Regions from separate parts of the Homo sapiens genome. Here all the other regions are linked to region 1. Evidence: fine-mapped expression QTL. A gene starts in region 1. Each other region holds a variant in brackets. All regions are shown on one strand. Distances are between the middles of the regions.

What was found.
Region 2: its variant is fine-mapped to the expression of CTSB in whole blood (TOPMed, PIP above 0.99).
Region 3: its variant is fine-mapped to the expression of CTSB in whole blood (INTERVAL, PIP above 0.99).
Region 4: its variant is fine-mapped to the expression of CTSB in cerebellar hemisphere (GTEx, PIP 0.96).
Region 5: its variant is fine-mapped to the expression of CTSB in whole blood (TOPMed, PIP above 0.99). The same link has a PIP of 0.9 or more in blood mononuclear cells.

The regions. Positions count from the first base shown.
Region 1 is chr8:11,865,250-11,871,438 of GRCh38, reverse strand. CTSB (cathepsin B) reads left to right here and starts at 3,352. Exons shown (of 10, transcript NM_001908.5): 1 at 3,352-3,438. RefSeq lists silencers at 3,199-3,318, 3,459-3,788 and an enhancer at 3,879-4,088.
Region 2 is chr8:11,799,576-11,805,123 of GRCh38, reverse strand. It overlaps FDFT1 (farnesyl-diphosphate farnesyltransferase 1), which reads right to left and starts at 2,383. Exons shown (of 8, transcript NM_004462.5): 1 at 2,193-2,383. The coding sequence starts at 2,291. LOC105379243 (a long non-coding RNA gene) reads left to right here and starts at 3,769. Exons shown (of 3, transcript XR_948962.4): 1 at 3,769-3,811. RefSeq lists silencers at 2,005-2,124, 2,335-2,584, 4,762-4,821 and enhancers at 2,655-2,814, 2,852-3,593, 3,594-4,336, 4,466-5,109. The variant A/G (reference allele first, on the strand shown) is at 2,271.
Region 3 is chr8:11,829,057-11,835,245 of GRCh38, reverse strand. FDFT1 (farnesyl-diphosphate farnesyltransferase 1) reads right to left here. Exons shown (of 8, transcript NM_004462.5): 6 at 4,826-5,002; 7 at 3,576-3,728. Among named protein-coding and RNA genes, the nearest start is that of FDFT1, 29 kb to the right of the region's middle. The variant A/C (reference allele first, on the strand shown) is at 3,527.
Region 4 is chr8:12,653,503-12,659,691 of GRCh38, reverse strand. LOC729732 (a long non-coding RNA gene) reads left to right here. Exons shown (of 9, transcript NR_047662.2): 2 at 1-562. Among named protein-coding and RNA genes, the nearest start is that of MIR5692A2, 63 kb to the left of the region's middle. RefSeq lists a silencer at 88-207 and an enhancer at 403-1,055. The variant T/G (reference allele first, on the strand shown) is at 3,489.
Region 5 is chr8:11,885,033-11,891,187 of GRCh38, reverse strand. No RefSeq gene overlaps it. Among named protein-coding and RNA genes, the nearest start is that of CTSB, 20 kb to the right of the region's middle. RefSeq lists a silencer at 1-63. The variant C/T (reference allele first, on the strand shown) is at 2,835.

The DNA.
Region 1 (6,189 bases):
ACTTCATTCCTTTTTACGACTGAATAAAACTCCATTTGGTGGATTTATGACAGTTTGTTTATTCGTGCAATGGTTTTTAATGGATGGACATTTGAGTTGTTTTCACCTTTTGGTTACTGTAAATAATGCTGCTATAAACATCTGGTGTAAGTTTATACATACGTTATTAACTTTTGTTTTAGAGTTGGGGTCTCACTATGTTCCCCAGGCTGGTCTTGAACTCCTAGGCTTAAGTAATCCACCCACCTCTGCCTCCCAAAGTGCTGGGATTACAGGCGTGAGCCCACTGTGCCCGGCGGATTTTTGTGAGGACGTATGTTTTCACCTCTTTCAGGTGTTAACTTAGGCCTCTTTTACGGATGTTCAACAAGCAAACAGCTTTTACACACGTGAGTCAAGGCCTCTCTGTAAGTTCTGAGAGCTGTTCCCCAGGCCCTGAACCCTGACCCCCAAATCTAGCAGGTTAAGCCAAAATTCTCCTCAACTTCAAGGCCTACTTCATTCATTATGCATCCACTCAACTCACATTTCTCTATCCTCTGCTATGGGCCAGACACCCTGCAATGAGCTGGGATGAAGCAGGGGAACACCGCAGGTAAAAATGCTTGCCTGGGTGGGGCTTAAGATCCAGTGAGGGCAGGAAGGAACATATACAAGTAAATATGCTGTATGTTCCTTTCTCCATGAAGCTTTCCTGGATGTTCCAGGAAGGGACGAATTCTACTCTGGTAGTAATATATTTCTTTTCTTGTCTTTTGAGGAGTCTTGCCCATGTTGGAGTGCAATGGCGTGATCTCGGCTCACTACAACCTCTGACTCCCTGGTTCAAGGGATCCTCCTGCCTCAGCGCTCGAGTAGCTGGGATTACAGGCCCGCAATGCCACACCCAGCTAATTTTTGTATTTTTAGTAGAGACGGGGTTTCACCATGTTGGCCAGGCTGGTCTTGAACTTCCAACGTCGTGATCCGCCTGCCTTGGCCTCCCAAAGTGCTGGGATTACAGGCGTGAGCCACTGCGCCTGGCCTATTTCTTTTTTTCTTTTCTTTTCTTTTGAGATGGAATCTTGCCCGGGTTGGAGTGCAATGGCGTGATTTTGGCTCACCGCAACCTCCACCTCCCGGGCTCAAGCGATTCTCCTGCCTCAGCCTCTCAAGTAGCTGGGATTACAGGCGCGTGAACCACCACGCCCAGCTAATTTTTGTATTTTTAGTAGAGACTGGGTTTCACCATTTGGGCCAGGCTGGTCTGGAACTCCCGACCTCAGGTGATCTGCCTGCCTCAGCCTCCCAAAGTGCTAGGATTACAGTGGTGAACCACCGCGCCTAGCCTGTTTCTTTTGTTTCAAAAGTGATTTTTACCTCTCAAAAGTGATTTCTATAATGACACTGATGGAAAATTCCATCAAATAGCCATAACGCATGTCAAGCACTCTGCTCTGCATACCTTCTGTCACACTCTAAGGATGAGAGAGGGGAGAGTTATCCTGGTTCTGGCTGTGTCCTCCCCATTTTGGCCATCTTATGAGCTCCTTATAGAGGTCTGAAATGATTTGGAGTCCAGAGTCCATGGCTGTCAGGATATGACTAGGGTGAGCAGGCAGTTGGGACCACCTTGACCTCCAGCCTCCTGGTCCTCAGTTCCTCGGGTATCCCACTCTGCTGGGGGCTTAGTGACCATGTTTGGGCTCCAGAGATTATTTTTTCCTTCCACTCCTATCCTTAGTTTGTTACTAACCAGGCGGGAGTACAGGCATGTCTCTGAAGACAGGCTCAGGGCTGTGTGACAGCTGACGACCAGGCTGCAGGGAACCAGGTCCCATGCAGTCCTACTGCCTTTTTTTTTTTTTTTTTTTTTTTTTTTGAGGCGGAGTCTCGCTTTTCGCCCAGGCTGGAGTGCAGTGGCACGATCTCAGCTCACGGGTTCACGCCATTCTCCTGCCTCCGCCTCCCGAGTAGCTGGGACTACAGGCGCCCGCCACCACGCCCGGCTAATTTTTTGTATTTTTACTAGAGACGGGGTTTCACCGTGTTAGCCAGGATAATCTTGATCTCCTGACCTCGTGATCCGCCCGCCTCGGCCTCCCAAAGTGCTGGGATTACAGGCGTGAGCCACTGCACCCGGCTACTGCCTTCTTACTGTCGCCACAGCCTGGATAAAATACGATTCTTCTGAGCCTTTTTTTTTTTTTTAATACAGAGTTTCACTCTTGTTGCCTAGGCTGGAGTGCAATAGTGCGATCTCTGGTCACCGCAACCTCCGCCTCCCGGGTTCAAGCGATTCTCCTGCTTCAGTCTCCCGAGTAGCTGGGATTACTGACACGCGCCACCACGCCCGGCTAGTTTTGTATTTTTAGTAGAGACGGGGTTTCTCCATGTTGGTCAGGATGGTCTCGAACTCCCGACCTCAGGTGACTCACCGGCCTCGGCCTCCCAAAATGCTGGGATTACAGGCGTGAGCCACCGAACCCAGCCCCTCTGAGCCTCTTGAATACAACTGGGGTCATGCCTGCTTTGCAGGTTTGTCTTAAGGATTAAAGCTGTTTGGGGAGTGTCTGGAGGAGGGTGAGTCTTGAGCCAACCCCTGCATCTCCCTTCCAGGGCCTCCCGGTAATAAACCCCAAGTAAATGTGCACTTTGTCCGTCCTCTCGGAGCAGGTCTCCGGGTACTCCTGTGCCAAACCGATTTCCGCCCCCAAGGTCCTTCTCCTCTTAGAAATCCTGACGCAGCTCCTAGGTTCCTTCGCAGTGACAGCCACTCTTTTCTATTTGTACGTAGCTGTAGTGTTTTGTGGGTACGTTCTCTGAACAACAAAGTGGCCCTTCTAAAGGCTGTTCTGTGGGGTCCACAGCCTCGCCACCCCCAGCCTCTGCAGCGGCTTCTGAATGAATGAAATAAGCGACGGCGCCCTCTCCACCACCCCACCCCCGCCAACTCGGCAGGCAGGGATCCCAGGCGCGGGTTCTGGCGGAGGCGGTCCCGCGAGGCGGGGGGACTTTTCTAGGCGGGGTGGGGGCCTTGGGACCACCTTTAGGGGCTTTTTCCCCATCCCCTGGCCCCAATTCGCAGCGTTTCGCCACCCAGGGCCCGCAGGGCTCCAAGCCCTTCTTCCCCAGCCCGCGCGCTCAGGCCCCCGCCCGCCCCCGGCGGTGGCCCCGGACCCCGAGCGGAAGGGGGCGGGGGGTGTGCGGGGCCGGGAAGCGGGGAGCGCGGGCGGCGGAAGGTGGCGGGAGGGGGTGGGGGCTGGGAAGCACCGTGCGCGGGCGGCGGGAGGGCCCGGGCGGGGCTGCGCGGTGGTCACGTGGGGCGGGGCCGGGAGGGTACTTAGGGCCGGGGCTGGCCCAGGCTACGGCGGCTGCAGGGCTCCGGCAACCGCTCCGGCAACGCCAACCGCTCCGCTGCGCGCAGGCTGGGCTGCAGGCTCTCGGCTGCAGCGCTGGGTGAGTGCTGGGGACCCGGGGCCACCGCAGCGTAAGTGACCTTGGCGGGGACGGTGCTACCCGGCCGCCGAGACGGGTTCCTCTGCGCCCTCAGTCGGGCCCAGGCGCGGCCCCGCGGCGTCCCTGGGGGCCGGCGGGGAGCCGGGACCCTCGGGACTGTCCCTGACGGGCGGGCTGGGGTGGGAGTCCGCGCGCTCCGAAGCGTCGGCGAGAAAAGCAGAAAACAGCTCCGCCCGCCAGCCCTCTGCCCTCCGCTCCCCTCCCCGGGCTGTGCGCCGGACCCCGGCCCTCGGAGCGGGGACGCGGCCAGGACCGCCGAGGGAGGCGCCTGCGAGGAAGAGCTCGGCCGGGTCCGGAGACTGCTGCCTGGGACCGCGCTCCCAGCGCCTGGGCCTCGGTGTCTCCGGGCCAAACTGCCGACATAATCGCATCTGCCGGCATCTATTTTCGGTTTATTTCCCCCTCATTGCGAAGGATTTGCCTGGCCAACTTTCTGCGCAAGATCCCACGCAATTCCTGGGACCCCAGAAGACAGGTCCTGTTGAAGAACAGGAATCTGGCACTGGGTGGGCTGGGGAGGAAGCCGCACGGTGTTAAATCCATAAACAGGAAGAGAAACCAGACAGCGAAACCAAGAGGCGAATGGGCGATTGGATGCCGGTGGGGAGAAGGCCGGGGGCGCACCCTGCTCCTGGACTCCAGTAAAGGGAGGCCGGGCAGAGTCCCTGGGGCGCCACCTCCCCCTCGGTTAGTAGCCCTGGAGGCCGGGGGGAGTTGGCCTCTGGGGAGCAGTGGGTGCTGGGTGTGGGGCGTTGCAGGCAGGCTGGGGTGGGCGACCCAGGTGGAAGTGAATTGCACTTGGCTTCCTGGTGGGCCTCTGTCACCCCCTTCCCAGGCGCTGAGAAAGCCAGCAGGCTGGCAAAGAAAAGGACCCTAGCGCAGGCCCCACACTCCTCCTCCTAACGGACGAGAGACCCCCCAAACCCACTGGAGAAGTGACGCTGTGGGGTTCAAATGCAGACCTGGCACCTTTTTGTAGCCTGGAAAAACATTCCCACTGCCTGCTGCCGGAGGAGAGGATAGCTGAGATGCACTCTCTTTGAATCCAAACGTTCAGGAACGTAAGGCGAAGAGGCCTAAGAGGGCGTTGGCTGGCTCTGTCTCTCAGGCTGGAGCACAGTGGCGCGATCTCGGCTCACTACAACTTCCGCCTCCCAAATTCAAGCTATTCTCCTGCCTCAGCCTCCCGAGTAGCTGGGATTACAGGTGCCCGCCACCACGCCCAGCTAATTTTTGTATTTTTAGTAGAGATGGGGTTTCACCATGTTGACCAGGCAGATCTTGACCTCCTGACCTCAGGTGATCCGCCTGTCTCGGCCTCCCGGTGAGTCACGGTGCCTGGCCAAGAACTGTTTCTTGTTGGCTCTGGTGCTGGTGACTTAGAACCCGCCAGCTCCTGGAGAAAGGGGCTGGGCCGCCCACCCTGTGTAGCTTTCCCAAAGACAGAGTCAAACGTCTCCTGGAGAACAGAGGCTTCCCTTCGTCTTTGGTCATTTGTCCTCTAGCTGGGGGTACCCCCTGGTGGAAAGGCACAGGTCCCTTGCTCCCCAGGTGGCAACGCAGGCCAGACACGGCCCTGGCACAGCTCTCCTGGGTGTTGGCTCAGGACAGCCCTGTTTCCAACTGGTTAGGCGGTGAGGGGTGGTGGCCCTTTGGTTCCAGGTTGAAACTGCCCATGTGGTGCTGATTTAGCAGACTGGGGAGGCTCTTTTTGTAGGCAGGTTCTTTTCTTTCCCCAGCTGCTGGACCTGGGAGTTGGAAGAGAAGTTGCACCCATTTTAGGGGTAACAGATATTTTCTGTTGCTCTTGGTTGGATTGGGAAGTGAATTGAAGGGAGGTCACGTTTCAGGGGTGCCTTGGGATGTCTGTCAGTGATTTTCTTTTCTTTCTTAATTTCTTTTTCTTTCTTTTTTTTTTTTTTTTGAGACACACTCCCTCTATCGCTCAGGCTGGAGTGCAGTGGTGCGATCTCGGTTCACTGCCACCTCCGCCTCTCATGTTGAAGCAATTCTCCTGTCTCAGCCTCCCTCCCAAGTAGCTGGGATTGCCAGTGCCCATCACCACACCTGGCTTTTTTTTTTTTTTTTGTATTTTTAGTAGAGACGGGCTTTCACCATGTTAGCCAGGCTGGTTTTCGAACTCCTGATCTCAAGTGATCCGCCTCAGCCTCCCAAAGTGGTAGGATTACAGGCATGAGCCACCGCGCGGTGGAGGGGTAATTTTCTTAAATCTGGTAATGAGTTGTGGTTGTGTAGAGTAACATACCGTCCTTTCGAGATATGGACTGAAACATTGAGAGGGAGGAGTTACAGGTATGTCGATTCTTCTTTTCTCTCTCTCCTTTTTTTTTTTGAGGTGGAGTCTGACTCTCTCACCCAGGCTGGAGTGCAGTGGCAAGATCTCAGCTCACTGCAACTCCGCTTCCTGTGTTCAAGCCATTCTCCTGCCTCAGTCTCTCAACTAGCTGCGATTACAGGCATGTGCCTCCACACTCAGCTAATTTTTTTATTTTTAGTAGAGATTTTTTGTCTCTCCTAAAAAAATCCAATGTAAAAAAATCCCAATGTGGGGGTTTTGCCACGTTGGCCAGGCTGGTCTCGAACTCCTGACCTCGTGATCCGCCCACCTCGGCCTCCCAAAGCGCTGGGATTACAGGTATGAGCCACTGCGCCCAGTCTGCTGCCTCTTTT
Region 2 (5,548 bases), 66 kb after region 1:
GCAATGCAGCGAGACATTGTGTCTACAAAAAAATTTAAAAATTAGCCATGCATTGGTGACACGTGCCTGGAGTCCCAGCTACTCGGGATCAGGAAGCCGAGGTGGGAGGATGGCTTCAGCCAAGGAAGTCAAAACTGGAGTGAGTCATGTTCAGGCCACAGCATTCTAGCCTGGACGATGGAGTGAGACCCCCCCCTCAAAAAAAAAAAAAAAAAGGCCGGGTGCAGTGGCTCACGCCTGTAATCCTAGCACTTTGGGAGACCAAGGCGAGCAGATCACTTGAGGTCAAGAGTTCAAAACCAGCCTCACCAACATGGTGAAACCCCGTCTCTACTAAAAATACCAAAAAATCAGCCGGGCGTAGTGGCAGGTGCCTGTAATCCCAGCTACTCAGCAGGCTGAGGCAGGAGAATTGCTTGAACCCAGGAGGCGGAGGCTGCATCTAGCTGAGGTCCCGCCACCACTGCACTCCAGCCTGGGTAACAGAGCAAGACTCCATCTCAAAAAAAAAAAAAAAAAAAAAGAGAAACTAAGATAATGTTAAGTGAAGGGAAATGTATTTTTCCAATTTATTTCCCCTAATTAAAGGTTCAGGTATTTTTTTAACGGCTCATGGGGATGTAAAAACTGCCCAGAAAGACTACAACTAACATAACAAATACTGCACCATATTATCAGAGCTAGAATAGCTCAAGTCTCGCTTTTAAAAAAACTCAAAATGTACAAAAACAGTATACTGTGAAGTCTTTCTCTACCCACTTACCATGACCACCCACTTTCCCTCCCAACAGGAAACCAATGCTACCATTTTCTCTAACAGTCTTTCTGTAGAAAGGAAAGAGACATAGAGGAATGAAGTCTGGACCCAAATGAGGTCTGACTGCACTCAGATCCCTTGCCCTGCTAGTATCTTCCTCTGCAGTGCTTTTCTCCACGTGAAAAACTGTACATTCGCTTTCTTAAATTGTCTCTCTTCCACTAAAAAGTAAGTTTTATAAAATCAAGGTCTTCACCTAGCTTGTTCACTGTTGTACCTCCAGCACCTAGAACACTATCTGATATACAACTGGTCGTCAAATATTTGTTAAATAAATGAATGCTATATCTAAATATAAAAAGTGACATCTGCCATATCAAATAATAGAAGTTATTCTGTAGCAAAATAATTCAAATAATGTAGCACCGGCAAAGAAAAGATGAAGAAAACTGAATGTTCTACAAATAGACTGAAGGATGTACCTGTATTAAAGATAGCACGTGAAAAATAACACCAAATGAGGGTGTAGTCTACTGGGGACAAAAACCAGAAATTTATTTTCTAGTGTGTTTACTGAAGCACATGGACACTGAAAGAAAGACTCCGATGTTCAGGCACCTATCAAGCCTCGGCCTGAGTCACATTTGCTACTGTCCTGTTGGCCCAAAAAAGTTACAGAAATCAGCCAGGCTGGTCCAGACCAGAAGAACTTGGCTGAATTTGTCTATTCATTCAATAATCGCGTACGAATAATTTTCTTGTTGGAATAAAAACACCTCCTATGCATTCATTAAACAAATAGTACAGGCATGAGGCAGATAAAAATCTAAGTAAAACCAAGTTCTGACCTTCCACCAACCACCTAGCTAATCCATAGACGTTAGATAACTCATTGGAACTTGGAAGCGTAGATAGGCGATTTTAAAACTCAGGAAGCACCGAGGATGAAGCGATGGAAGGCAGCAAGGCGGGGAGAGCTCCGGAAGAGGTGGTGAAACTGGAGGAGTCAGACTTCATTCCAGAAACGGCCTTCATGTGATGTTATCTGCATAGTTCATTCCGCTTACCAAAAAACTCACTCGTCCTCTCCCGCGTAACCCACCCACATTGCCTCAGATGTGTAACCCTCGGGTTAAAATACCGGTAAGCGCCGATGCTCACGGAGGGGACGAAACGGGGAGCGCAACCACCGGGAACCACGCAAAAGTCGCTCATGCCCAGGGCGGCTTGCGGGGGCAGGGACAGGTCAGCCAGGACGGCCGCGTCCACCCGGGCCCTACAGGGGGAAGGCTCGAGGAAAGGGGGACGGGAACACCCAGGCGTCGGCCCTGCTCGCCGCGCCCCTTGCCCCAGATCCGGGCCCGGCCGCTCAGGCCCTGAGGCCGGCCCAGCGAGCTCCTTCCCCGCCCCGGGCAAGCAGGGAGGCTCGGCCCACCTGGTCCATCTTGGGCATCACCTTCCGCTTGCCCCCGATCCGGAAGCGCACCAGGTTGTAGAACTCTTCGGGGTGGCC[A/G]AGGCATTTCACGAACTCCATCCTGGCGCAGGCGGCGGACTCCCGGGCGCGACTCTCACCTCTGCGGTCCCCAGGCGCTCACCGGCCGGCTGGACCTGTGGAGTAGGTGCTTCGAGGGGCTGGCCGGACAGGGGGCAGGCCTAGTACGGCGACGCCCCGCCCGCCGCTCCGCCCACTTCAACCGGCCTCGGCCGCCAGCGGGGCTAGCTGCGGCCTCGTGGGGTGGGCTGACGGGCGCTGATTGGCCAGGGCCGCTCACACTAGGAAGACCCCGGCCAATCAGTCGCGGAAGGAGACTGGCGTGATAACACTCTAGAAGCTCATTGGAGGCCGAGAAAGAGGCCGACGAGCGGGATTGGTGCCCTGATGGAGCCGGGCCTTTGTTTTCTTCCGCTTACCCCGGCTGGGAGCGCGAACGCTGTGGGGACTGGAGGTGAGGCGGTGGGGCTTAGGATGCGCAGGAGCCCAACGGTGGTCCGCAGTCGGGAGAGCAGTGCGGGGCTGCTTCCTCCCCACTTGGTCAATAAGTCGCCCACGTGTCCGGCCTCGGTGGCTCCTGCCAGCCGGGTGAGCTCTGCAGCCGCTCTCTGTAGAGCCTAAAACCGTGAAAAGGCCGGGCCAGCGCCAAGCTGGGCGTCTTTACTGTAACACACCCGAGCACAGCCCAGCTCGCCTGCCCGCCACCGCCATCCAGCCCCAGGGAGCCCCACACACTCCTGGAGCTTCAGCTGCCCCCTCTCTAGTGTTTACTTGAGATCCAGCTTAGTCCTAGAAAAAGGAGCTGAAGCCTTAGAGAGCCTGTAACAGGAATGTGGAAACTTCTCTCATCCTAGATCTCTCCAGCCCTAGAAACTACTGGCTACCCGTCCAGGCGTGGTGGCTCACGCCTGTAATCGCAACACTTTGGGAGGCCAAGGCGGGTGGATCACGAGGTCAAGAGATCGAGACCATCCTGGCCAACATGGTGAAACCCGTCTCTACTAAAAATACAAAAAAGCCGAGTGTGGTGGTGGGCGCCTGTAGTCCCAACTACTCCGGAGGCTGAGGCAGGAGAATCACTTGAACCCGGGAAGCGGAGTTTGCAGTGAGCCAAGATGACACCGCTGCACTCCAGCCAGGCCAACAGAGCAAGACTACGTCTCCAAAAAAAAAAAAAAACCTACTGGCTACCTAAGCCATCCTGCAGTCTGTTTTAACACAGCAACCAGTAATCCTTTTAAAACCTGTCAGGTCTAGCCGAGCGCGGTGGCTCATGCCTGTAATCCCAGCACTTTGGGAGGCCAAGGCGGGCGGATCACCTGAGGTCTGGAGTTCAAGACCAGCCTGGCCAACATGCTGAAACTGCGTCTCTACTAAAAATACAAAAATTAGCCAGGCATGGTGGCAGGCGCCTATAATCCCAGCTACCTGGGAGGCTGAGGCAGGAGAATCGCTTGAACACAGGAGGCAGAGGTTGCAGTGAGCTGAGATCGCGCTATTGCACTCCAGCCTGGGGGACAAGAGCGAGACTTCATCTCAAAAACAAACAGGAAACCTGTCAGGTACGTTCACTGCCCAAAGCTGTTCAGTGTCTCTCCAACAAAAGCCAAAGCACCTATAGGGATCCTGAGAGGCTGCAGCCTTCCACCCAGATTACCTCTCTGGCCTCCATCTCTTATGCTTTTGCTTTCTCTGGCCCTAGGACTTTTTGTCTAGCTGTTCACTATTCCTGCACTATCCCCCAGATACTGGCTTGACTAACTCCTGTGCCCCTCGAGTCTGCTCACACCTCATCTAGACCCACCTGTTTGCCCTCTCTCACATTTCCACCACTGCTAATCCCAGTGGGGGTCTACTTGCCTATATTTACCATATTCTAATACATCATTTACTTATGTATTAGATTACAGAGTGTTTCCCCTACTACTGTAAACTAAAAATCCTAAGTCCCTACCACTGGACAGCCCTCCCACTCCCCACCTCGGCCAAGGGAACCCCAGAAAAATCTTAAAAACTTAGTTTCCAGCCATGACGGTATAAAAAGTAAAGTAGAGGTTCCTCTTCAAAGACTTTCCTCCCCATTTAATTAGGAATAAATAGTAACTTCTCTTAGAAGCAAACTTTATTCAAAGACCTGTGCTAACATTCTTAAATATCTGCTAGCTATGATAAAGAAATCAATGTACTTCATGTTCTTAGCTCTCACAATTTAGCCTAAATATTTGCCCTGGCATGCTTATAGTGGTCCAAGAAAGCATTAGGTCATAGCCTGTTCCTCTTCCTTATTTGAAGGTGTTTCAACCTTTGTCACCATTCCACAAGTTACTTCCTCCTTCCTTTGTTCTCCTCTACCTTTGCCTCTTTTAAAAACTTCTAAGTTGCTAGCCAATCGGGACAAATACAGAACGTGAGGCACCGTTCCAGCCAATGGAAACTAGACACAAGCAGTGGGGTGGACGAGTCAGGTTATAAATGACCCTGTCTCCTTTGTTTGGTATACTCCCATGGCAAAACTGCTGGCGAGTGTACCCTTTCTGCAGGAAGTAAAAATGGCCTGCTTAGTAAATTAATGTTCAAGCGCCTTTTTTTTTTTTTTTTTTTTTTTTTTTTTTTTGAGACAGAATTTCACTCTTGTTGCCAGGCTGGAGTGCAGTGGCACAGTCTCGGTTCACTGCCACCTCTGCCTTCTGGGTTCAAGTGCTTCTCCTGCCTCAGCCTCCCGAGTAGCTGGGATTACAGGCGCCCAACCACCACGCCTGGGTAATTTTTCGATTTTTAGTAGAGACAGGGTTTCACCATGTTGGCCAGACTGGTCTTGAACTCCTGACCTCATGATCCACCCTCCTCGGCCTCCCAAAGTGCTAGGATTACAGGCAAGCCACTGCGCCCAGCCTTCGAGTGCTATTTCTTCTTCATTTTTTTTTTTTTTTTAAATGGAGTCTCACTCTGTCGTGAGGCTGGAGTGCAGTGGCGCGATCTTGGTTCACTGCAACCTCTGGCTCCCAGGTTCAAGTGAGTCTCCTGCCTTAGCCTCCCGAGTAGCTGGAACTACAGGCATGTACCACCACGGCCAGCTAATTTTTTTATTTTTAGTTGAGACAGGGTTTCACCATGTTGGTTAGGATGGTCTCAATCTCTTGACCTCGTGATCCGCCCGCCTCAGCCTCCCCAGGTACTGGGATTACAGGCGTGAGCCACGGCTCCCAGCCTACAAGTGCTATTTCTTTCCAGCACCAGGGAAAAAGCATTTCAAATAACGGGACAGGAGATCAGATAGCCCTCATTGTACCCCCTTCCTT
Region 3 (6,189 bases), 36 kb after region 1:
CAGGTCTTAAAAACCTACTAGCCTCAATCAAGGAGTTACATCTGCTTGTCAAGGACAGGTCATAGCCGACTTTTCATCTACATGCCCGGCATAAAGTTGAAGCCAAATACTTGAGGGGTTTGAGAAAGGGCCTTCACCCTGTTGCCCAGGCTGGAGTGCAGTGGTGCCATCTCAGCTCACTACAACCTCCACCTCCCGAGTTCAAGCGATGCTCATGTCTCAGGCTCCGGAATAGCTGGGATGACAAGTGTGCACCACCACACCTGGCTAAATGTTGTATTTTTAGTAGAGACAGGGTTTTGCCATATTGGCCAGGCTGGTCTCGAACTCCTTACCTCAAGTGATCTGCCTGCCTCAGCCTCCCAAAGTTTTGGGATTACAGGTGTGAGCCACAGTGCGAGGCTTGATGATTAAATGACACAGGCTCCTATAAATGTTTACTAGACTGAAATAAGCTCTTGTGCAATGCTGTGCTACATACAGCAGCTCCTCTGTGAGTCCATGTGGTACTTCCACGTCTCAGCAGTTCTACTTACAACTGCGAATATGGAATCAGCTTGATCATCATTTAAAACTCTTGTCTATGAACATCTAAACTTCCATTAAAGCAAAAACATCATTTGGGAAAAAAAGGCAGATTCTGATTCGATACGTTTGGGTGGGGGCTGGATGTCTTAATGGGCTCCCAGGTGATTCCTGGCAGCTGCTGGCTGGGGACCATCCTTGAGCAGCTAGGCACCTGGGGCTCAAAGAGCCGGATGATTCTCTGACTTAACCACAGGAGGGCACAGGAAGTGTGCAGAGACACGAACAAGATTCTCCCTGCCAAGGAATTCACTTTGGCAGAGAGGGGAATGGGGGTTTCTGGCCGTTTGGCTGAGCATTTATTTCTATCCCAAAATAGCAGGTTGATCTTCTCCCCAGCTGACAAGCATCCAGGCTGGTTTGAAGCAGAGGCTGCTCCAGAGTGGGGTGAGGGCCCTGCAGTGTGGCCAACTGCTCGTGAAGACCTGGGGCTGCACTCCAAGCCCCCACTAAGCACTGGAGAAGCATGAGGAGGTCCTCTGGCAAGTCCCTTCCAGGTGCATGCTCGCTACAACACTAAGTCCAGAGATCGGACAGAGTCAACGTTTCTTCCTTTCTTACTACAAAGGACAGACTTGGTCAGCAAGGAGAAATAGGATCAGTGTTAATATCTGGACACCAGCAAGAGGCCAGACGACTTGTGGCTTCATACAAAATGTTTTCATTTAAAACTTTACTTGTAAAATGTCCTTACTGCTGAAACTAAAACCATTAACAGGTTCTACTGCTTAAGACTTAGAAATCTTCAAAGATTTCCCTAAATCAAATCAACTTAAGTATTAATATTAACATTTCTCCCCTAATGCCTTGAGTTTTACTGGGATAACAGAACAACTGATACCCTAAGTCAGAAGTCAGCAAACCTCTTATTCAAGGGCCAAAAAATATTTTCAGCTTTACAAGTCATCGCCTGTTGCAGCTCCTCAACTCGGCCGTCACATTGCAAAAGCAGCCACAGAAGACAAAGAAGCAAATGGGTGTGGCTGTGTTCTGATAACATTTATTCACAAAAACAGGGCTCAGCCAACTGTAGACTGCCCACCCTCGCCCTCAAACTATGAATTACAACCAGGATTTAATCCCAATAGTTAAGGAAAAACCAAATAAATCTGAATTTTAATATAGTAATGGAATTGGCCACAAAGTGTTTAAAAACTGGTTTCTAAAACTAGTGATCAAACTGCAAAACCAAAACACTCTCAACTACTTACTACATAAAATGTTTCTAGTTTATATAAAATGAATAAATAGTGCTTAATATAGCAGGATTCCATTTAGAAAGGGTAGTTGAACCCCTTAGAATTGGGGTTAACATCATGGATTCTGATGTCAGACAGACCTGGGTTCAAATTATGACCCTAGCCATGAGGCTGGGGCCTCAAGTTTCCCTGAGATTACTCCTACCCACCTACTTGGTCACTACCCCAGGCACATAGATCAAAGTAAGTTCTGGCTACATGGCAAAATGGAGAGTCTCATTGGTAGCAATTTTTTGGGTCACTGGCTGAATATTTTCATCTAGTGACTACAAAATTTTAGGGTTTTTAAAAGCGATGTGGTCTTCCCTTAGACTTCCATAGGTGCCTCTGATAGAAGTTCTGGACATACAGCATTTCTGTGTCAGATAAAGGTAGGGAGGAAGTATAAGAAGAATGTGCAATATGCAAGAGAAATCAGAAATCGCTATTTTGTATAATTCTATTTAGATGAAAACACTGTTGCAAACCATATTCCTGTAAACGCGTAACAGGGGGACTAGACGGATGCACAAAACCATGAACAGAGGTAACCTCTGGGGAGGGAGCTCAGGCAAAGGAAAAATGATGAGGGTCTTGTATGTTTTCATAAAGTCTACAGTGTTTCATTCTCAACAGGATCACACCTGAGGATCACAGCATCATCCTGGGCCTCTACTCACCAGATGCCAGTAGCACCCGATTCCTGCCGGTTAGGACAATCAAAAATGTCTCCAGACATTGTCCAATGTCCTCTGGGGGGAGGGGAGCAAATCACCTCCATTTACAAACCACTGCTCTAGGGCCTAGAGATTATTAGAGATTACAAAGACTTCTGGTCTCTAAGACTTTTTTTTTTTTTTTTTTTTTTTTTGAGACAAAGTCTCACTCTATCACCCAGGCTAGAGTGCAATGATGAAATCACACAGCTTACTGTAGCCTCGACCTCTCAGGCTCATGTGATCCACCTGCCTCAGCCTCCTGAGTAGCTGGGACCACAGGCGTGCACCACCATGACAATTTTTAAATTTTTTGTAGAAATGGGGTCTTGCTATGTCGCCCGGGCTGGTCTTGAATTCCTGGCCTCAAGTGATCCTCCCACCTTGGTCTCCCAAAGTGCTGGGATTTCAGGAGTAAGCTACTGTGCCTGGCCAGAAATAAACTTTTTGAACCTAGTCAAATATTAGAGATTTGACCTAAGAAGGTAAGTTTTCTTTTTATAGGATGGTTTTGGTATTTGAAATGAAATTTTCCAAAGAAAATTTAGGAAATAATTGCAACTTGATGGCTTTCCTTGGCCTAAATTCCCTACTGTGATTTTTCAATTGAGGCCTGTGGCATAATGAAAGTACCAGACTGGGTGTCAGGACACATGGACGGGAGCCAGAGATCCACTCAATCACGCACTGCATCAGCACAGACAAGCTTCAACCTCACATTCCTCACCAGCAACAAGAAGCTTGGTTGGCCTCCTGCATCATCTTGCAGCTCAAAATCTATGATTCTACTGAGGGGCTCCAACCTACAGCCTTGCTCCATTTATCTCCTCTCACCAGGGTACTACACAGCAGTGAGCAATCTGCTCGGCTCCTGTGAATAGACTTTTTTCCTTATAAAGGATATCAATTCCTGTCTCTTTAGGCCACAGGATAGTGAATTGTTAGGATCATCTAATATCCAAACCTGGTTAAACAGTGACATTACTA[A/C]ATCATAAAAGTAGCTACAAATTATCCAAGTAGTTAAATAAAAACCCACCTCTTCCATATACTGATATATGATGGCTTTGACAGCTGGCATATTGGTGGCATCCATCATCAGGGTCACTGCTTGCCCTTTCCGAATCTTCACTGCCCCTTTGAACACCTGCTGGTTATTATAACAGGCAGCCAAAGTGGCAATGGCCATCACCTAGAGACAACAAGAAGAGAGGGAAAAAAGAAGAAATGATGTCGTTAGCTATCATTATCACAAAAAGGTAAGAAAACCTTCTGTTGAATGGGCAATTGCTAACTGCTAATCAACTAAGATGGAATCGCTCAAGAAAAAATACCCACGAAGAAAGTATGTCAAGATTTTTACCTTCCCCACTCCTCCCTTTCTCAACAACACACAGAATTAAGCAGTCTAAAACAATTCTATAATGTAGCCACAAAAGTTCCATTTTATTTGGAAAAAGCAAACACAAGTAAATCCAACATTTTCCATGCTAGAGCAATGGATTATCGGATCGGAAATATGTATTTCAAAATAATATATGGGAAGAATTTTCTATTGTAGTTGTTTTTCTATTTTTCCTACAACAAACATAATCATTATATATTTAAAACCAATGCCAGGGGGAGAACAACCAGAAGGGGATTAATTTCCTGTGCTCAAAGGTAAAGTATTTCTAGGTAAATGGAAACATAAGACGGCGATACAGATTTTACTTTCAACCACCATTCGAAGTTGGTCATTAGAACAAGATCAAACCAAGTTCCCAAATCAGTTAAATGCTGTTACTTTCTTCACTTATTTGCAGTAGTATCTGCAATACTTGGTAAAGGCAACTAAAAAGTGTAAGTTCCTAGCATACTGAGAGGCTAGGTCTACCGGACCAGGTTCTTTTTATGCCGGGTCTAGGAAAAGGACAGCAGTAATTAGGTGCTTAATGAAGACTTTTTAATGATAACAGCTTCACCCAGGTTTTACCCAGCACTCCCCATAAATCTAAGCCAAAGACCTTGACTTAACTGTGAGGAAAAGAACCTAACTAGTTTAGGATAGCTGTAGAAAATAGTAAATCCAGAAAGAAGGTTCTGAAAAGGAGCAGGCTTAACCTCAAGGCTGAGCTGAGTTTGGTGGCTGGAAGCAAAGGCGGGTGCTATGAAACTCCCAGCGTAATAAACTGGAGTCATCGTCTTTTTAAGGAATCATATCCTTGAATATAGCACAGCAAAATCCACCCTTACTCCTACCCCACTCCCTTTAGCCCCGTATCCACCCAGAGGAGCCCCCTTCCCTACCTGTGGAATAGCACAGAAGTTAAACACACTCTGGTTTCTGAGTCTCGAAAGGTAGGTGATGACATCTGGGATGTGGTGCAGTGCATTGGTTATAAGTTCATTCAGGCACTGCACGGCCAAGTCAATATTCTCCGGCTTAGCAAAATCCCCTAACTTCTTAACATACCTGCTCCAAACCTAGACAGATAAGAAGATTAAGGAACAGGTCAGCGTGTGCATAGGGGAGAATTTACAAACAATATTAAAGGGTCTTTGTGCATAAGAACTATGATACAGGCTGGGCGCCGTGGCTCACGCCTGTAATCCCAGCACTTTGGGAGGCCGAGGAGGGTGGATCACGAGGTCAGGAGTTCAAGACCAGCCTGGCCAAGGTGGTGAAACCCTGTGTCTACTAAAAATACAAAAACTAGCCGGGTACGGTGGCAGGCGCCTGTAATCCCAGCTACTCAGGAGGGTGAGACAGAAGAATTGCTTGAACCTAGGGGGCGGAGGTTGCAGTGAGTCAAGATCTCGCCATTGCACTCCAGCCTGGGTGAAAGAGTGAGACTCCGTCACAAAAACAAAAACAAAACAAAACAAAAAAAAACACTATGATATACAGTAAAGTCTCTTAGCTGCAGACTCATCTTTCACGAAGATCAAGTTCATTTTAAGCTCCATGCAATAGCTATTTCTGACTACCAGTAAGTGTCCAGTTGCAACCTGGAAGTGAGTTACGTATTGGGGAGCATGTCCCGAGGGACAACTAGTGCAACACTGCACTACTTGGACGAATTCAGGCTAAAGAGGCTCCTGTTAGAGCTACTGGCCTACTTCTGAAAAAAATAACCCAATATACAAAAACAGTTATAATTGTACTGCAGACTAAACAGTAAACCTTCTCAAGATGGCCAGGCCTCTAAATAATGACTAACATTATATTCCTACTCTGGTAAGAAAGCTGCTGAAAGGCATAGCTGGGAAATGAGCTGAGTCTATCCTCTAAGTGTATTACACCTCCCTGGATCCTGATAACTTGAAAGTGAAATAAAACCTTTAATTCTAACAGTGGGATTCGGCTTGATGATTTTTAATGATATTATTTAGAGGATTCTCTGAAGCTAGCGAAAGTTCTGGAAACATAGTGTTGATGGTTATATAACATCATTAATGTACTTAATGCCACTGAATAATAGACTTAAAAATAGTTAAAATGGCAAATTCTCTATTATGTACATTTATTATAAATAAAATGTTAAGTATATATACATACAGTTAAAAAGAGATAACAACAAGTGCTGGTGAAACTGGGACTCTCACACTGCTGACGGGAATGTAAAATGGTGGAGCGACCTTGGAAAAGCGTCTGGCAGCTCCTCACAAGG
Region 4 (6,189 bases), 790 kb before region 1:
TTGGGCAGGGAGACCATCGGAGTGCAACCTGGCTGGGGCGGGGAGGAGGTGCAGGGCCTGGCCAGAGCGGGCCTGGCCACGGGCAAGGGACAGCGACCTCCTGGGCCAGGACAGGTGAGCGCGGCGCAGGCCCGGGCCCGGCGTGTCCGCGCTGCGCGGGAGAGGCCAGCAGAGGGCGCCAGAGAGCCAGGAGCGGCCCGCGGAGGAGCCCGCGCCCGCCCCGATGCCCAGCTCCGCGCCTCGCGGACCCAGCAAGCTCGCGCTCAGACGCCCCAGCTCCGCCGAGAGGACGCTCGCCCCGGGTGCTTCTTTTTCCCCAAGTGCAGGCAGAGCCCCTGGAGCCATGGCCAGCCCTTCCGGCAGCTCCGAAGCCACTGGCAAGCCCCGAGGCAGGGATGGCCGGCCCAGGAGGGAGGAGGACGACGTCCCTCCTGAAGAGAAGAGGCTGCGGCTGTTGCTGGAGGGGGGAAGAGCACAGCCCGAGGACTGCGAGGACGGGGAGGACGCGCTGCGGCCGGGCAAGGAGGACACCGGCACCCAGACAGGTGGCGACGGCAGAGGAGTAAGTGACGCGGGCGCGGGGGTCCGGGGGCGCGGAGGTGCCGGGGACGCGGGGTAGAGGCGGCGGGAGGCTCCGTGGCCGGTTCCGGGTTGAAGTTGGTTACTGAGCGGCAACTCCGGCGGCACGGAGTGACAGCTGGTGACGGCCTCCGAGACGCCAGCTGCCCCTTCTCGGCTGTGTGGCTTCGACTTCCTGATTCTCCCACGACGTCCCTGGCTGGGATACCCGCTGGACTCTGCAGCTGGCCAAAAGGGGAGGGGGAGCCCCGCGTCCTGGGGCCCCCAGCAGGGGAAGGGGCGGGGGTTGCCCTGGGCATCCTGTCTGGGGCATCTGTCTGGGACTCTGTCGGTGCCTCTCACCTGGCGAGGGGCCTGTGGTGGGGGCAGGGGGGAAGTCCCTGGTGCCAGGCTTGGCCAAGCCCTGCTCTGCTGGGCTGCGGGCTGGTGGCGCTCACCCAGCTCGTCACCTGTCCCGCATCTTCCTGTTTTTTTTTTCCCTTTCTAGTTGGGCAGCCAGAGTTGAGAGGAGGCAGATGGCTTCCATCCCAGAAATCGTTCTCTTTCCATCCCTACAGAGAGGGACAGAGAGGCAAAGTTCCTTGCATTCCCTGGGGCGCTGTCCCTATGAGCTCCCGGTGTCCTGCACACGTGGGCCCCTGAGTCACCGGGCCTGTGTGTGTGGGATGGTGCTCCGTGGCCAGCCTGGCCTCCTGGGGTTCACTTTCTGCTTTCCTACCCCAAATCTTCCTGTGTGGCTTTGCTGGCCTTCCACTGGGGAGGCACGTGAGTTTGGAGAGCAGATGAAGGCCAGCTGGAGAGCTGTACCCCTCAGTGACTGCTGCCACCTTGATGGTTTTTGATGGATAATGGGGTTGACCTCTTTGTTCCTTCCACATGTTTTTATGTTTGACCATTTACTTAACTGAGCTTGTCTTAATAATTGGATTCGTGGTTAATGAGCCCCACATGGGAGAGAGGGCGGCCTTCATTCTGAACCCATTTAGGCAGCATGGGCAGCCCTCCTCGCCGTGGGCTGCATCAGAGCCCCACCCTGCCCAGTCTTGGGGTTGCTCCCGGATGCTGCCTGGGAGGCTTTCTCATGGTGACATCCTCATCTCCCTGTGCTCGTTACTGCATTCAGAGCTTGGGTCACCTGGACACTGAACTCAGGTGAATTTTCTCTGAGATCCCAGGAGAAGGAGGACAGTTCTCTGGAAGGTTTTCCAGGGCCAATCACGGACAGGATAAGAAGGGAGAGGTCCTGATCGGGAACACAATTACGGTGGCAGTGTAACGCCGGGAAACTTTATTGCGTGAAGGCCCTCTCACTCCCTCTACCTCCTTCTTTTACGTGGACTCTGCCAAAGACCAGGATACTATAATGCAGTAAGGTGACCAAGCGTAGTGGGACCTTGGGAACACGAGTCTGGAGCCAGGCAGCTGGGGTTTGGATCCTGGTTCTGCCCCTCCTTCGCTGGCTGACATGGCACAAGCCACTTACCCTCTATGAGCCTTACTGTCTTCAGTGGCAAATGGATCGGTCTACAGACCCCAGTGCCTGCGGTTGTTACTGCTGAGATTAAGGGAAACTCGTCCATAGAAGCACTTAGCGTTGTGCCTGGCACATAGTGTATGGCGGATAAATGGGACTCAGGACTGAAACTCATGCCTTAGTGTGTTTTTGCAGTGATGTTTTGTTCTGGGGTGCATCACAAGAGACAAGGTCCTTGGCCGGGCGTGGTGGCTCAAGCCAATAATCCCAGCACTTTGAGAGGGTGAAGGGGGGATCGCTTGAGCCCAGCAGTTTAACACGAGCCAGGGCAACATGGTGAAGCCTCATATCTACCAAAAAACAAAACAAAACAAAACAAAACAAAACAAAACAAAAGCCAAGTATGGTGGTGTGTGCCTGTAGTCCCAAGTACTTTGGAGGCTGAGGTGGGAGGATTGCTAGAGCCTGGAAGGTCGGGCTGCAGTGAGCTGTGATCATGCCACTGCACTCCAGCCTGGGTGACAAAGTGGGATCCTGTTTCAAGGAAAAGACAGAGAGAGAGAGAGAGACAGACAGACCCACAAGAGTCTTAAGCCAGAATCTCCATGTTAAAATGCTTTCTGGAGGCTAAAAGGATGATATGTTGATAATGAAATATTTAAAAGACAGAAACCCCACTGAATTGTTTGGTCCACAGAGGGTAATGGGAATCGCATGACCTGAAGGATGATGGAGGAACTGAATAGAAACCATCCTTGTTTCCTGAATCTGAACATGGCACCCTCTTTTCACGGTGTCTGTATCTGCTCAGTCCAGTGGCCCCTTGAAAAGAGGGAATCTTGATTTTCAAACTTAAAATTTGGCCCAAAGCCCACTGCTGCCCACAATGCCCGCCAGACACATTCCTCTTCCTTTTTAGTTTCTATGGAAATACTCTTTCTGAAGAACCCATGAAGCAGTGTCAGGCTGGTACGAGGATCAGCAGTGATTTCTTTGAGGACAAGAGCCAGTTTCTTCACTCACAGGCCATGTCTGAGTGGATCAAGAAGAACAGAGTGCCCTTTTATGAGATTTTGTCTGCGTAGACCACTAGCTTGGTAAAAATGCCAAAACCATCCTCGTTCTTTAATATCAGATTATTTTGGACTTTTCTCTATAAGAAGCAGCATGGGCATTCAGATGCTTTTAAGGATAAAATGTTCTTTCTCATCACCAGGCCTGGTGCTCTGGATGGCTGAGGTTTTAATGTGACTTGGTGTCCCTTGGAGTGGCTCCCAGGCTGTGCTCTTGTGGTTGGGTGGCAAGGGGTTTCTTTATTCGGTGGTGGCTAGAGGATGTTTTAGCAGATAAATCGGGACCCCAGGAGCCCCTGTGTTGCAAGTCCTGCTGCAGGGCATGTGTTTATAGTGGGGATGTGGGGAGGTGGAGGGTGGGG[T/G]GCATTGATTTCCTGCCAATATCAGAAGTTTCACAGGCTTCTTGTGTATCCACAAACACCGACCCCATTGAGAAGGCCTAGAAAACCTGGCCCTCCCCAAGCCTTTATTGACAACTTGTGAATGATCCCAGGGTGTGTCTGACCCACAGCTCCTCCTGGAGGGAGAGCAAAGTCTCTCCTAGGTATTTGGTTATCAACCTCAACCACTTGCTGAGCCTTCCCCAAGACCAGGCATCTTGTCAGAGATTTCTGGGTTGTCAGGCAGAACCGAGCATTCGAGGATAATAACTCACTGGAGTCCCTGAAATCCTTGATGGACGCACCAGTTGAAAGCATCCAGGGTTGAAACCAGATCAGGAAGGTTATTCTCATCTTGGGGCTCCTGCAGAGGGATTCCTGCAGAGGTGCATCCACGTTGCAGGGATTTTCCTTCTTGCTGAGGAGAAATCTGGGTTTCTCCGCTTTGGCACAGTCACAACATTTGGGGTCAGACCATTCATGGTGGTGGTGGTGGTGGGGAGGCTGTCCTGTGTATTGTAAGATGGTTAGCAGCATCTGTGGTCTCCATCCTCTAGGTACCATTTTACCCTCCCAGTTATGGCTACTCCAGATGTCTCCAGATGGTTTCAAATGCCGTGGAGCAAGGGAGTTGTACGTGAGCCAAACCACTCCAGTTGAGAGCCATTGGTCTACACTTGTGGAAATGTTTGAGGGTGAGAGTGTCAAGCTTGGGTCCCTGCTGTACTCTTTATCAGCAATGCAGTCTTGGAAAATTAATACAACTCCAGGGGCCTCAGGTTTCTCATCTATGAAATGGAGATAAATGAGATACACTTTCATAGGAAGGTTACATGGGATTTACTGAGATAATAAGACAGTACATTGAAAATGCTGGGCATAGCATTTATTTATCTTTATTTTGTTTTTAAGATGGAGTCTTACTCTGTTGCCCAGCCTGGAGTGCAGTGGCATGATCTCCGCTCACTGCAACCTCCACCTCCTGGGCTCAAGTGATTCTCGTGCCTCAGCCTCCCAAGTAGCTGGGAGTACAGTTGCCCACCACCACACCTGGCTAATTTTTGTATTTTTAGTAGAGATGTGGTTTCACCATGTTGGCCAGGCTGGCCTCAATCTCCTGACCTAAGGTGATCCACCCAGCTCGGCCTCCCAAGGTGCTGAGATCACATGTGTGAGCCACCACCCTGGGCTGGGCATAGCATTGTAACACAGACAAATCACAAAATACTTGGGCAATATCTTTCTACATTTGGGTTGTCTAGACTCCATCCTCCATCCCCTCATGTACTGGTGTGGTGCAGAGCAGAATGTCACCCACCTAGACTGCAGAGTGGATTTGGGTGGCATCTTGGCTTTCTGCACAAGACTTGCCTGTTCCCCACCATGTCCCCCTGGTTCTCAGGGTCCAGGATTCCAGGAAGCAGGGATGTGGGCAGGAAGGGCAGGTGGCCCACCCGGTTCACTCCCACGCTGGGGACCTGCAGAGCCAGCTCCCTGAGACAGGGTGTTTGGACCAACATCTGGGTTTCTGGATTTCCATTTGAGCACAGCTGGACTACACAGGCTGAAGCTCTCTCTGCCGAGATATAGATATTTCCCTGGTGATGATCTTTCAAGCTGACATGAAGACATGGCCACCTGCTGGAACGTGTTGTGTCTGCTGTGGCGCTCTTGTAATTTGTGAGGCAGGCTCCTGAGGAATGCAGTGCGTAAGTGGGAAATGGTGGGAAGTTCTAGCATCCTCCCCTGGCCAAAAGTGCTGCCTGCACAGGTTGGTGGATGGTCCTTCGAGCAGGAAGAAGACATGAAACACATTCCTGTTAGCTACGACAGAGAGGGGCAGGGTACACACTGGACATTTCGAGCCCATCCAGAGAAGCAAGTCTTACTATGTTGGGAGTACTTTGGAATGGGGGCTGTGTTGCCCTGGGCTTTAATTATTTCAGGAACATTTAACCCCAGGGTTGGCAGGCTGGATCTTGATATGTGTTTCTCAGTTGGAAAGACTTTGGACCATATGGAGATGTCTTCTCAATTCTTTTAATTTCAGTAAGGTTGTCATTTTTCTTCTTGTGGCCTCTGGAATGTGACACAGAACTCAAGGGACAGGAAGGAGATGATTTGGAGGCTGGGACAGGGGTCCCTGCCAGGGATGCTGGTGACTCACGTGACGGTGTTGATGTGTGGAGTCCGGTGCCTGGTTTGGGGAATGTTCGTGGGATATGTTCCAAAGGACTGACGGACCTATCTGGTACTGGAGGTGAATGGTCAGGTCTGATCTCAGGGCTGTTAGTGTCAGGCAAGGACAGGAAGTTGACGTTGGACTCATTGGCTGAGGTTGCTTGGGACCCAGGGGGCAATGTGTGCCAGGACAGATGGGTCTGGGGCTAGGAAGGCAGATTTGGGCTGGAGACTCGGGCTTGGGAGGCATCCCAGGTAGACAGTGGTTGAGGCTGTGGAAATGACCGCGATTGCCTGGGATGAGAGTGGAGACAGACAAGATGGGGGTTTTGCTTTAAGCCTGGGGAGCCCACCTCCCAGGTTCAAGCGATTCTCCTGCTTCAGCCTCCCAAGTAGCTGGGAATGCACGTGCATGCCACCATGCCTGACTAACTTTTGTATTTTTAGTAGAGATGAGGTTTGGCCAGGCTGGTCTCAAACTTCTGACTTCAAGTGATCGGCC
Region 5 (6,155 bases), 20 kb before region 1:
CCATTTTATGGTCTCTCACAAGACCACACTCAAGGTGTCAGGCAAGGTTGAGTCTTATCGAAAGGCCCAACTGGGGAGAATCTGCTTCCAAGCTCACTTTTTGGTCGTTGACATGACTCAATTGCTTTTAGGCAGTTGAACAAAGGGCCTTGATTCCTAGGTGTTTTTTCCCAGAAGGCACCCTGTGTTTCTTGCCTTGTGGGCCTCCCCAATCAAGCAACTTGCTTTATGAAAGCTTATAAAGGAGAGAGTCTGCCACCAAGACACAAGTCGTCATCTTATATTTACAGAGGTGACATCCTATCATCTTTGCTCTTCTCTGTTTGTTAAAACCAAATCGAAGGTCCTGCCTGCACACAATTGGGGACATTACACAAGGGTGAGAACACCAGGAGTCAGGGACCACAGGGAGCCATCTCAGAGTTCACTCAACACAAAGATATTAATCTTCATTAAGCTCTTTCTGCCCCAGAAAGCAGCCCAGCTTTTGTGGATGTTGTGAGGCCTGTCTCCCAGAAGGGCATTTATTAACCAAACAGTATACAAGATGGTATTAGTCCATTTTTATGCTGCTGATAAAGACATATCAGAGACTGGGCAATTTACAAAAGAAAGAGGTTTATTGGACTTAAAGTTCCACATGGCTGGAGAGGCCTCACAATCATGGTGGAATGTGAAAGTCACATCTCACATGGGGGCAAACAAGCGAAGAGAGAATTTGTGCAGGGAAACTCCCATTTCTAAAGCCACCAGACTTCATGAGACTCATTCACCATCTCAAGAACAGTGCAGGACAGACCTGCCCCCATTATTCAATCACTGCCCACCAGGTTCCTCCCACGACACATGGGAATTCTTGCAGTTACAATTCAAGATGAGATTTGGGTGGAGACACAGCCAAACCATGTGCAGTGGCACAATCGGCCCACTGCAACCTCTGCCATCCAGGTTCAAGCAATTCTCATGCCTCAGCCTCCTGAGTAGCTGGGATTACAGGCATGTGCCAGCACACCTGGCTGATTTTTGTATTTTTAGTAGAGACAAGGTTTCACCATGTTGGCCAGGCTGGTCTTGAACTCCTGACCTCAAGTGATCTGCCCACCTCAGCCTCCCAACATGCTGATGCCTGGCCCGATTTCTTCTTTTTCAATATAATGTGGAATTATCTGATATCTGGATCCAATTTAGTTGTTTATGGAACTGAAACTTCCATTTATTTTGTGGATTATTTCCAAAAACTGATTGGGACTTTGTGTCCGATTTCATTCGTTTCTGTGTGTCATCAAAAGCTGTATTTGTTATGGAGATTAATAATATGTTCTAATTCCCCAGAACTTAGCCATGTCTAACCCTGATATGGACAAGGTTCCATCACCTTTTATAAGACCTTTACAGTAAGTCTTCAATAAATATTTGTTGAATGAATGAGTAAATGACTGAATGGATGGGTGAATGGACACTTTCGCTGGCTTGGGTTTGGGCAGACAGTAGGAAGTGGGGGCCACTGTTTCACCAAAGGAATCACGCTGGAGAAAATCCCTGCATAGCATTGAGTTGTGCAACTATAAATCTATTCCCATAAATTCCAATCAATCCTGTAAACTTCAGAGCAAAAATGCCAGGCTGTGTTAGTTTGCTCAGGCTTCCGTAACAAAATACCACAGGCTGGGCAACTTAACAATAGGCGTTCGTTTTCTCACAGTTTTGGAGGTTAGAAGTCTGAGATCAAGGTGTTGGCATGGCTGGTTTCTCCTCAGGCTATGCCTTCTCCGTGTCCCCACATGTTGTTGGGTTTTTTTTTTTTTCTGTGTATGTGCAGCCTTCATGTCTCTCCCTCCTCCTATAAGGACACCAATCAGATTGAATTAGAGCCCACCCTAACAGCCTCGTTTAACTTAACTACCTCTTTAAAGACCGTGTCTCCAAAGACTGGGTGTGGTGGCTCACAATGTAATCCCAGCACTTTGGGAGGTGGGAGCGAAAAGATTGCTGGAGCCCAGGAGTTTGAGACCAGCAGGGCAACATAGTGAGGCTCTGTCTCTACAAACTGTTTAAAAAAACAGCTGGGTGTGGTGGCGCATGCCTGTAGTCCCAGCTACTCAGGAGGCTGAGGCAGGAGGATCGCTTCAGCCAGGTAGAAGAGGCTACAGTGAGCTATGATCATGCCACTGCACTCCAGCCTGGGCAACACAGCAAGATCCTGTCTCTAAAACAAAACAAAAATCAAAACCTTATCTCCAAATATAGTCACATTCTAAGGTAGTTGGGCTTAGGACGTCACTGTGTGACTTTGAGGGAAGTCACTATTTAGACCATACCACAGACCAGGCCTCGTTTTTGCAGGCCTTCCTGTCCTTGCCTCTCACCATCAGACCCTGTCAGTCCCCAAGTCAGTTGACTGAGGAGCCTTCTATCAGCAGCCCCAGACCATTCTTATGGGGGTGTGAGGGGACAGTGCAGGTCCCTAGAGGATATGTCCATCTTCTTTACTCTGGGGATCAGCCCAGAGTCTGGGGGCCACAGTGGACCCCTCTGAACAGCTGCTCCCCAACCCACACACTCCCACTCCCTTCAATGGGGCACCTCCCTACACGCCCGGCCCTCCTGCACTGCTCCTCAATTCCCATCCCTAACCTTGTCTCCTCACACAACTCCAAACCCTGAACTGCCTCCCAATGGCCCTCAGATTTAGCAGTGGCTGTAGACAGATTCGTGCAGGCACAAACCCTGATAGTAGGAAGCTCCCGAGGTGCCACTCCGCCCGAGCCCACGAGCATAGCGCTCACCCTTCCGGCGGTCCTCCCTCCCTCGTTGCTGTTCCTCCTCTTCCCCTT[C/T]CTGATCCCTCCTTGGATGGCTGACCTTTCAGCTTAAAGTCTCTGGCTCACTCCTGGGACCTGTGGAGAACGTTTTGGTTTGGTTTGGTTTTGGCTGTTCTCGCTACGCTGGTGAACTCTCAGTCCCGTGGAACTGATGCCATCTGTGCACTGATTGATTGCAAATCCATGTCCCCAGCTTGGCTCTCTGTGAACTCCAGACTCAGCTCTGTTCAGTGTCTTGGCTCGAATGTTTAATAAGGCATCTCATTCTTGACATGCCCCAAACTGAGCTCCTGCTCTCCCCCATAAAACTTCCTCCTCTGAAGTCTTCCCCACCCACGTTTATAGCATTCCCATTGTTGCACAACCATCTCCACCATCCATCTCCAGAACTTTCTCATCCCCCAGCTGAAACGCTACACCTATTAAACACTAGCTCCCCCTTCCCCAGCTCTTGACAGCCCCCATTCTACTTCCTGGGCCTGGGCTTTTACTTTGATGGTGTGGGCGCGATTGGTGGCCTTTGAGCAGAGGAGTGTATGATTTGACTTGGGTTTTAAAGAAGCCCTCGGGCGCTGCGTTGAGACTGACATGCCAGGCGTGAGGGAGAAAGCAGGACGCAGGGGGTCATTAGGAGGAGCCCAGAGGCTCAGCCAAAAAAAAAAAAAAAAGAAGCTGGGCGCATTGGGTCATGCCTGTAATCCCAGCACTTTGGGAGGCTGAGGCTGGTGGATCACGAGATCAGGAGATCGAGACCATCCTGGCTAACACGGTGAAACCCCATTTCTACGAAAAGTACAAAAAATTAGCCGGGTGTGGTTGCGGGCGCCTGTAGTCCCAGCTACTCGGGAGGCTGAGGCAGGAGAATGACGTGAACCCGGGAGGTGGAGCTTCCGGTGAGCCAAGATCACGCCACTGCACTCCAGCCTGGGCGACAGAGCGAGACTCCGTCTCAAAAAAAAAAAAACAACTTGGAATCATCCTGCTTCCTCTTTTTCTGTCTTTTTCTCTCATAGCCCACACCCAACCCATGAGGAAATCTCTGCCTTCAGAATATTCTCACTTCTCACACCTCCCTGCAAGCCCCCTGCTCCAAGTCACCCTCTCCCCTAGCCTGGATTCCTGTTTTGTCTTTCATTTGAGCCAACATTTAAAAAGCAGGAAGCTTCATCCAAAAATACGGATTTCTGCTTCTAGCGAATAAAGAAGCAGCCATGGCAACATTCTGCTATCATCCTCTCTTGGCAGGAATCTGCTAGAACTAAGTAGAAGCTACCGTCTTTATTTAAGGCTTACACGTTCCACTTTTCCTCCTCCGTCCTTTAGTTTCTCCGCAACATTGAGGCCACGTGTGAATTACCACTTGTCATTGTCACTGAACTTTTTCTTTTAGAAAAAAGAGAAATAGGGATAGGCGCTTTGAGGGTTCAAGGTGATAGGATCACTTGATACCAGGAGGTCAAGACCAGCCTGGGCAACATAGGGAGCCCCTGTCTCTACAAAATAATAATAACTAATTAATTAATTAATTTAGCTAGGTGTGGTGACACACACCTGTGGTCCCAGCTACTTGGGAGGCTGAGGCAGGAGGATTGCTTGAGCCTAGGAGTTTGAGGCTGCAGTGAACCATGATTGTGCCACTGCACTCCAACCTGAGCAACAGAGTGAGACCTTGTCTCAAAAAAATAAAAAATAAAAATGCTGGATGCGGCAGCTCACACCTGTAACCTCAGCATTTTTGGGAGGCTGAGGTGGGAGGATCACGTGAGTCCAGAAGTTTAAGACCAGCCTAGGCAACATAGCAAGACCCCATCTCTTAAAAAAAAAGAATTAGCTGGGATCTTCAGTTGTCACATAGGTGGAAAAAAAAAGAAAAAAATTAAAATAAAAAATTAGGTAGGCGTGGTGGTGCATGCTTGTGGTTCCAGCTACTTAGGAGGCTGAGGTGGGAGAATCAGTTGAGCCCGGGAGATTGAGGCTGCAGCGAGCCGTGATTGCACCACTGCACTCCAGCGTGGATGACACAGCAAGATCCTTTCTCGAAACAACAGCAACAAAAACCCTGAATTGCCAACCCGGGGAGCCTCTGATGGACTCCGCCCTGACCAGGACTGTAATGAGCTGTGGACGGGGCTCATGGGCTATTGCGTTCCATAGTGCAATTCACCTCACCATTTATGTGAGTGGCACCCCCTAAGGTTATGCCATGGGCAGTCACACAGCCATCCAGTGCATCCTGGAGACAGAGGAAAAGTCAAGTGTGGTCTGGGCCCAGGACCAGGACAGCAGGGTGGGCAGGCATGGCCAACAGAAGGAGCCCTCTAAGCTTCACTGGGAAAATGAACAGAAGGGAGGAAGGAAGGCATGGGGCTGGTTGTGGGGTCAGACTCTGCTTCCGTGACCCTCAAAGCAGAGATGGCAAAGCAAACCTCCAGGGCCTCCAAAGGCCTCACGAGTCCTGGCTGTGGAGCGGGGGCTTGCAGGAGGCTGCAGGCTCAGGAGCACCCAGGACATCAGTGGCCTCTGCAGACCAGCCTCGTCTGAATGCTTCCATCACAGTAACGCAGAAGTTTCTGGACACCAAGAGACAGAGGCCAGGCAACATGTTTTCACAGTCTCATTAGTCCCTGTCCAAAGTAGTGCCATGCAATATGGGGCAGTCCCACACCGAAGGGGCCTCTTCACTGCCCGCCTGTCCAGGGTCCTTACCGCCATTGACGGGTCACCTGGACCCTGCAGCCACACTCTGGAAGAGCCTCTGCAGAGAGGCTTCAAGCCCCTTTTCTTTCTTCCCCTGCTGCAGAGAAGGGGCTCACGAAGGCATCCTGTCAAGCTTCTCTTGCCTTACTTAGAATAATGACGGGCTAGGTTTTTGTTTTTCAACTGTCAAATCAAAACAGAAAAAAAGCAAATGTAGATTGTAGACCCAGGGGACTTTTGCAAGGGATCCTTCTGGCATGAAACTTTCTCCTTTCTCTGCCTGGCATATTTTCTGGTAAAGGGGAACACACATCTTGGGGAGGTATCTCGAGAGTCGATAATAGTTATGGTTCAGTTCCGTCTGCTTCCCAGAGAATTCTAACTGTATTGCATAGTGAGTGCCAAGACCTCTTGAGGCCAGTGGGGGATTGCCTGAGGGGCTCCCATAACTCATCCATGGACTCATTTAGCAGGAAGGAGCTGAGGGAGGAGGCAGGCAGGAACCAGTCCTGAGTGAGGGCAGGGAAGTGTAGGGTGCCATCTCTCCCTTCAGGGCAACCCAGGGTAGTGGCACTTATGCTGCAAGGTACAAGTACCTGCAAGGCCACTAGCAAGGTGACGACAGAGAATGAACTCCAG